2 linked regions of the Homo sapiens genome follow. The protein of the gene in region 1 purifies or fractionates together with the protein of each later gene. This does not show direct contact. Each region holds a gene or a part of one and is shown on either strand. Other genes may lie near its edges. The genes, in order: TMEM65 and COX15.

What was found.
Region 2: the proteins of TMEM65 (region 1) and COX15 fractionate together in Homo sapiens (co-fractionation; one large-scale study listed by IntAct). This does not show direct contact.

What each region holds. Positions count from the first base shown.
Region 1 is NC_000008.11:124,320,627-124,324,450, reverse strand, and holds part of TMEM65 (transmembrane protein 65), read left to right. Parts: intron 1-1,075; coding exon 1,076-1,130; intron 1,131-2,303; coding exon 2,304-2,346; intron 2,347-3,824. UniProt on the Homo sapiens protein: Essential for maintaining proper cardiac intercalated disk (ICD) structure and function as well as cardiac conduction velocity in the heart.
Region 2 is NC_000010.11:99,725,568-99,729,391, reverse strand, and holds part of COX15 (heme A synthase COX15), read left to right. Parts: intron 1-1,828; coding exon 1,829-1,951; intron 1,952-2,237; coding exon 2,238-2,424; intron 2,425-3,824. UniProt on the Homo sapiens protein: Catalyzes the second reaction in the biosynthesis of heme A, a prosthetic group of mitochondrial cytochrome c oxidase (CcO). Heme A is synthesized from heme B by two sequential enzymatic reactions catalyzed by heme O synthase (HOS) and heme A synthase (HAS).

The sequences.
Region 1 (3,824 bases):
TATATTTACAACCTTGTCATTTGAACTTTGTGCATCAGGACAAAAGACTTTTGAACTTCAGTGCATCAGACTGTTGGGTCCATATTCGACAAGAATTATATCTTAAAGTGATGCAGCCAAAAGCTCTAGGGGAAAGAAACTTGAGGAAACCTCTTTTCAGTTTTGTAAATAATTGATGAGTAATGCATTATTTCTACGTAAAATACAGGGCGTTTTTTTCCCTCCACAAATATCATTGAGATTTGAAGCATTTTTTAGAAATGTTCAAGCATCAGTATTCAAGAGAACTCTTGAAAATTAAGTCTTCTAATGGCAGCATTGCTCAGGGATTAGAATTGAATTAGCACAATAGATCCTAGGATTTCTTCTTTATTCTGTTAGAATAGTTTAATTGTCTTCACTTCAGTTCCTCCTCTTTAAAATGAAAGTAAAATATGAGCCCCTCTTTTCTTCAGAGGAATGATGATATACATATAGAAAGTCTTAAACTCTGTCATTAAATTCAGTGGCGATACGATGGGGCTTTGTTTTGAGTGTAGATCTATTGTACTAAATGCCGTTGCTGCTTATAAATTGAATGTATAGTTTCACTACTTAATGGTTCAAGAGCTAAGTGTTATAAGGATAATTTTATAAACCCCAATTTCCCTAGAAACTGGTTTAGTCTCCTTTTAATCTTTTGATAGAGTAAATAACAATAGTATAGATGTATAGTTCAGAATTTAAAATCAATGTGAGTCGGTCTTGTTTTCAAAGAGCTTTAAAGCATTTTTCTCTGTGGTAGAAAAATAGAAATTCTAGATTTTTAATGATGAACTATATTTCTACATGTGTTGCTAATTTTATTTTTAGAAGCCTAATTTGAATGAATAAAATGTTATTGATGTTATTTCTGTATGAATGCATATATTTAATAATTTAATGAATTACTATATTATATGTGCATATATGATGTATGTAATTTTGCAGCACTAACATGTTGATTTAACTTGTATCTGTTTTTATTAATGCTTTGCTATTCTTTTATAGTCACTTCAGCTTTAATTTTTAAGATTAATTTTTTATCATATTTCAGGGAACCCATATTGAAATGTCTATTGGAATTATTTTGGGAATTTCAACTATGGCAGGTATTTAACAGTAGTAAATGTTATTATTTCATTGTACACTTATAAAACATTTCAGTAGATTAAGTTTAGAGGAGGGTAATTTATTTGAATGAGTTTACTCATTGAGATATCTGTTAATTTTCTTCATCCTATTCTTCTGATTCTTAGTTTTGTACATGTAGCACTTTTTCTGAAAATTTTAGGTACTTTATATTATTAGTTATTGGATAACAATACTCTGCTATATTGATTTCGTTAAGACAAGATTTTCTGGCAATTCAGTGTTACCCCTAAACATTTCTACCCTTGGTCTCTTTTATTTATTTATTTATTTATTTATTTATTTAGAGACGGGGTCTCACTCTGTCACCCAGGCTGCAGTTCAGTGGTGCAATCTCAGCTCACTGCAACCTCCACCTCCAGGTTCAAGGGATTCTCCTATCTCAGCCTCATGAGTAGCTGGGACTACTGGCGCCTGCCATCATTCCTGGCTAATTTTTGTATTTTTAGTAGAGACGGGGTTTCACCATGTTGGCCAGGATGGTCTTGAATGCCTGACCTCGTGATCTGCCCGCCTCGGCCTCCCAAAGTGCTAGGATTACAGATGTGAGCCACCACGCCCAGCCTATTATTTATTTTTTATTTATTTATTTTTGAGTTGGGTAGAATTTTTTTTTTCTTGAGTTGGGTAGAAAAATCAAAGAAGGAAATACAGGATTAAACATCTGTCTTCTCTGTCCCATTTACCACTCTATTCTTCACAGAGGTAAAATTTGGGAAGAGTTCTATGTTGTATTTATTGTAGAAAGCATTAGGTAAATGAGTTAATGAAAGAAACATATTTTTCTCCTTGACTTTCTTGAATTTCATAGCTGTACATGCAACTTTACCAATTCCTTTAAATATTATATGAAAGATACTACAAAATATTCTACAATTAATATTGAAACCAAAATGGAAATTGGCTGCCATAACAAAAAAACCTACTACTTAATGGAGGTAGAATAGCATAATTTCAAAATTGTGTTCTATTTCAAAACCTTGAGAGTAAGAGCTGTCCAATGAGTTACTTTGGATATGGTTGCTGTTGTTTGAGAAATATGAGAACTCTTCCAAGATCAGTGCTTTATTGATTACATAGTGATATAATTATTATTCTTTTATGTAACAATTATTTATTTTTCAAATTTTTAGCTGCTGCTTTGGGAAATCTTGTGTCAGATCTAGCTGGACTTGGGTAGGTTCATTCACTTATTCATTTGTATATTCTGTACTTGCTGTCTTTCTGTTCCCCACTCTTCTTTAATTGAGAAGCATAACAAAAGAATATTTCATTTTTCTTTGTTTTCTAGAATTAAAATTTCAAATTTACTTTTTCTAAACTAATAGTACTAAATCTTTGGTATCCATCAAATATAGATGCCTGGGTGATATCCCAGTTATACATTATTAGTGTCTCTGGAGAGGGAGCCCTGGCAGTTGTGTTTAGTAATTTTCATGAGTGGTTCTGATGTATGCAAAAGTTTATTCTAAATTTACCATAATGTAAGCAAAATGGAATTTGTGTTTACTGAAGTATTTATATGTATTTTATAGACATCTCCAAGGGTAAGACAGGAGTAAAAGGAAGAACCTCTCTCATTATTCCACCTCACCCTACTCCCAGAAAACCCAAAGAGAAGGGATATGGCTCGAATTTGAGGATACTGACTAGACATGTTTTCTAGAGGGGGGAACTTTCAAAGGAAATAATGGCCAAAGCATATATGGGTTTGGCTGTTTTTTGCTCTCTTTACTTTATGTGGCAGGAATAATGAAACAAACTAAGGACATCTATTTAGAAAAGGCCAGCTTTCTCTCTCTCTTTACATTCTTGTTCCAAGTAGCAGATGGCCTGAGTTGCTTCCTGAGCTTGGGGAAGCCTGGGGGAGTATAAATTAGACTAAGTGGACATTATTATGATAAATATGCTCTGTCTTGCTCTGTCTTTGATTTTGTCTCTTCTTTCCTTGACTCATTTGAGTGTTACAATTTCAGATTTGAATTTTTTCTTAGAAGTTTACTTAGCCCTATAATCTAGGCAAAGCAGCTTTTTAAGTGATCTAACCTTAACCTTTTATATTAGACTTCTGCACTGGAGTTTGGGGCCAAAGCCACAGTTAAAAACAAAGTTTCTTTGTTTTAGGACCATGGCAAGAATTTTATATTCTTCGAATTCCTGGCATAAATGTATCATGATATCATCTCTTAAACATTCTATTCCCAGTTTCCAACATTAAAGTAAATAATGAGAATATTACAGTCATTGTATAGCTTTCTGATATATTTAATAGAACCAAATGATCTAAGAGATTTTAAAGCCATTTAGCTATATATTGCATCATAAAACAATTGTTTTTGTTTAGAGATGAAGATTTTTCTGGAAGTCTTTGTATTTAAAAACTATTTCTCTTCTCTCTTTTGGGGGGTATCATTCAATAACAAATACCACATTTTAGGCATTCTCAGATGCATTTTAACGTATCTGATATCAGGATCCATCTTATTGTTGGTAGTATACATAGTTTAATTAGCAATATTTTTTCTTTCTTACAGTTCATAAAGTAAGGATGTATCCAATAAATGATGGCAACTTAGAATTGATAAAATACTTGAGATTGGCCTGACAGTTCTAAGGTGTTTTTGTTAGTTTACCAATCTGAGGAATTTTGGAAA
Region 2 (3,824 bases), on another chromosome or scaffold:
GTCTCCTGAGTTCAAGCGATTCTCCTGCCTCAGCCTCCCAAGTAGCTGGGACTAGGCGCGTGCCACCATATCTGGCTAATTTTTTGTATTTTTAGTAGAGACAGGGTTTCACCATGTTGGCCAGGCTGATCCAAACTCCTCACCTCAGGTGATCTGCCCACCTCGGCCTCCCAAAGTGCCAGGATTACAGGCATGAGCCACCATGCCCAGCTGGAGAAAGGAATTTTACAGAGCATCTAGTCTAGCTCCCTCATTGTATAGATGGAGAAACCGAGGCCTTAAAGAAGGAACATGTCTGATGGCTTGCCCTGCCATAGAACAGTTGAGTGTTTTATTAGTAGGAGCCTTCTATAAAGACTGGTTTATGTCTTAACTGGTACCTGTGCATTGTTTATGTATCTTTTCTCTTTCAATCAGAGTCCAAGTTTGTCTCAAAACTTTTTTTACAGTTTGTTTGAATTAAACCCAAAGAAGTTCTGTACATCACAATTGGTTCATGTTTCTTAGGTTTGTTTAAATCTATCAAGAGACTATAGATTTAGACACTCCTCCCTTTCCCCCTCTTCTAGTTGCTGAGGAAACTCTAGTCATTTGTCCTATGGTTATGCACAGTTTAGATTTTGCTGACTGCATAACTGTGTGATATTTAACATGTTCCTTTGTCCCGTCTATTTCCTGTGAATGAGTAGTTGGTTGATCAGATTCAAATTAGGGATGAGGGAGCAAAATACTTCAGTAGGTGAATAGAACATTCGTGAATATCTGGTGTCTATTATAGATGTTAACAGCCATTAATTACCATTGCCTAGATCCATTATTTCATTAGCGTAGCAAAATTATAATATTTTATTAGCTCAACTCTAAAAAGCTTTCCCTCATCATCAGTTTGGATATCCCAAGGTATAGTTTGTATAGGAAAGGCAGGATACATACTTGATTCTTCTTTCCCTTTATTTACCAATTTTCAAAATAATAAATTGGTCCCCCAAATCCTCCAAAGGCAACAAATAAAGGATTTGAATTTTTAAGGCTCATTATGAGATCATAGGTTCAAACACACTCGATAATGTTTCGGTCCGTTGTGATGATGGTGTTAGTGATTTGCTCAGATTGTCCCATCTTTAGTCAGTGGGCATCTCCTGAAATTGGCTCTAGTGACTTTTTGGCAGGGCCCTAATTACCTTTGATAGTTTCCTTACTTTCTAGTATGACAAGATGTTCCGAGCTCATCTTGTGCATTTCTTGCCTCAGGCCTAAAATCAGGCTTTTACTCTAGGAATCCTAATTCCTTTTGGTAAAAAAGTTTCTAGTTTTAATCAAATGTGTCTTCCTCAAATTCTCTTCACATTCCACGTCCCTTATTTCAAAATACCTTATGTGTTATATAGGTTGTTATGAGCAAGTGAAACAAATTTGAATTTTATTGTCTTTAAATTCACCCAAGAATCTAAACCTGTATACATGTAACAGGTCTCTTTTCCCTGGGTAAGGAATGTTGGTTATGCATTTAGAACACATTTCTTTGGCTGTAGGGGTTGATTTTACCTGTTGAGGAATGCTAGTGAAAGGAAGAATTGGGAAAAAAAAAAGAATTGGGGAGAGTTGAATAAAAGGATTGAGAGAATATAAGGGTAAATAAATTTGTACCTGATGGCAGCTGTTTCTGACAAAATTCCAAGCAGTAACAGAGAAATGTCTCAAAAGAGGAAACAAGGAAACAATGTGTTTACCTTTAACAAGGTTAAGTTCAGATCCACTTGTTGCTATAAACCTTTTGTGAGTAATCCAGCCTCACGCATACACCCCAAAATTTCTTTCCTATCCTAAGGTTGACAGAGTCTGGCCTCTCGATGGTAGATTGGCATTTAATAAAGGAGATGAAGCCACCTACAAGCCAAGAGGAATGGGAAGCAGAATTCCAAAGATACCAGCAATTTCCAGAATTTAAAATGTAAGTATTAGAGAAAATTAGGTAAACATCCCAGTAGGCCCATTTGATCTTTTGGACTTAAACCCTTCAGAATGGTTAGATTATTTCATGAACTTCGGTTCAGTTATGTTTAGTCAGCTTGTCTTCTAAGCCCCCAAATCCAAAGTCATCCTGAGGTCGTTGATGAGGAAGAGGGCAGACCTACCAAGTTGCAGGACTGAGAAAGAAAGGTTTTGCATTCCGTAAGAAAATAAAAATCAGAAGGATGTTTCCTCCTCCTCCTTTTTTGACTTTCCATTTCACCCAGCTTGAATCATGATATGACACTGACAGAATTCAAGTTCATCTGGTACATGGAGTACTCACACCGAATGTGGGGTCGCCTTGTAGGCCTTGTGTACATCCTGCCTGCTGCCTACTTTTGGAGAAAGGGCTGGCTCAGCCGTGGCATGAAAGGACGTGTTCTTGCCCTCTGTGGCCTCGTCTGCTTCCAGGTAAGATTTATTCAAGGTTGAGAAACCAGAAATGCTCCCAGGAGCTTCCTAGTTGGCATTGTTTTTTTTTTTTTTTTTTTGAGACGGAGTCTCGCTGTGTCGCCCAGGCTGGAGTGCAGTGGCGCGTGATCTCGGCTCACTGCAAGCTCCGCCTCCCAGGTTCATACCATTCTCCTGCCTCAGCCTCTCGGTAGCTGGGACTGCAGGCACCTGCCACTATGCCTGGCTAATTTTTTGTATTTTTAGTAGAGACGGGGTTTCACCATGTTAGCCAGGATGGTCTCGATCTCCTGACCTCGTGATCTGCCTGCCTTGGCCTCCCAAAGTGCTGGGATTACAGGTGTGAGCCACTGCGCCCGGCCCCTAGTTGGCATTCTTTTTAAGGAAATAATCTCTGAGGCACTTTAATAGAATAGGTAAGAGCATGCATTTTAGTGTCACAGGCCTAGCTTCAAGCCCCAGCTCTGACACTTAGGGTAAATTACCTAACCTCTGAAAGCTATGATTTCTTTACCTGTAAATGGGGATAATAACAGTGCCACCATGTACAGTCGTGTAAATATTAAATGAGATAATCCATATTTAAAGTACTTAGCTTAGTGCCTGGAATCAGTAAAGCACTCAGTAGTATATTTTCATGTGCTGCAAGATGTAGTTTGTTTCCCATCATGGGTGTCTCCCTAGGTTCTTGTCTCTCCTCTTTTTCTAACTTGTCTGCTATAGGAAAGAGGGATCCCTGTGCTAGAATGCCACAGAAGCATACAGGAAAATTCCAAAAGAGAGAAACACTTTGTGGGATGAAGGATTGTAGAATACCCATGTAGCTGAGAGATATTCAGATATAAATGGCAATTAAAATCACGTAAGTTGAGCGCCTCTTAAGGAAAGACTCCCACAGTTAACAGGTTAGTACTGCTAGAATGATGAAAAAAAAAAAGTTGGGTGAAACTGAGCAACAAATTAAAAGAGAAGACACATAGGAGTATTTGGGTCAAGGTTTAGAGATCCTAAAGGAGATTATCAGGGCATCAAAGAAACATCAAAATTTAATCAGGAGGAAGCTAATTGGTTAATTTAACTCAGAAGTGGTAAGAAAATGAGTCAGTTAGAAGGGATTAAGGCCGGGTGCAGTGGCTCACACCTGTAATCCCAACACTTTCGGAAGCCAAGGTGGGGGATCAGGAGTTCCAGACCAGCCTGGCCAACATGGTAAAACCCTGTCTCTACCTAAAATACCAAAATTAGCTGGGCATGCTGGCGTGGGCCTGTAGTCCCAGCTATTTCGGAGGCTGAGGCAGAAGAATTGATTGAACCGGGGAGGCGGAGGTTGCAGCGAGCTGAGAGGTTGCACCACTGCACTCCAGCCTGGGCAACAGAGCAAGACTCTGGCTCAAAAAAAA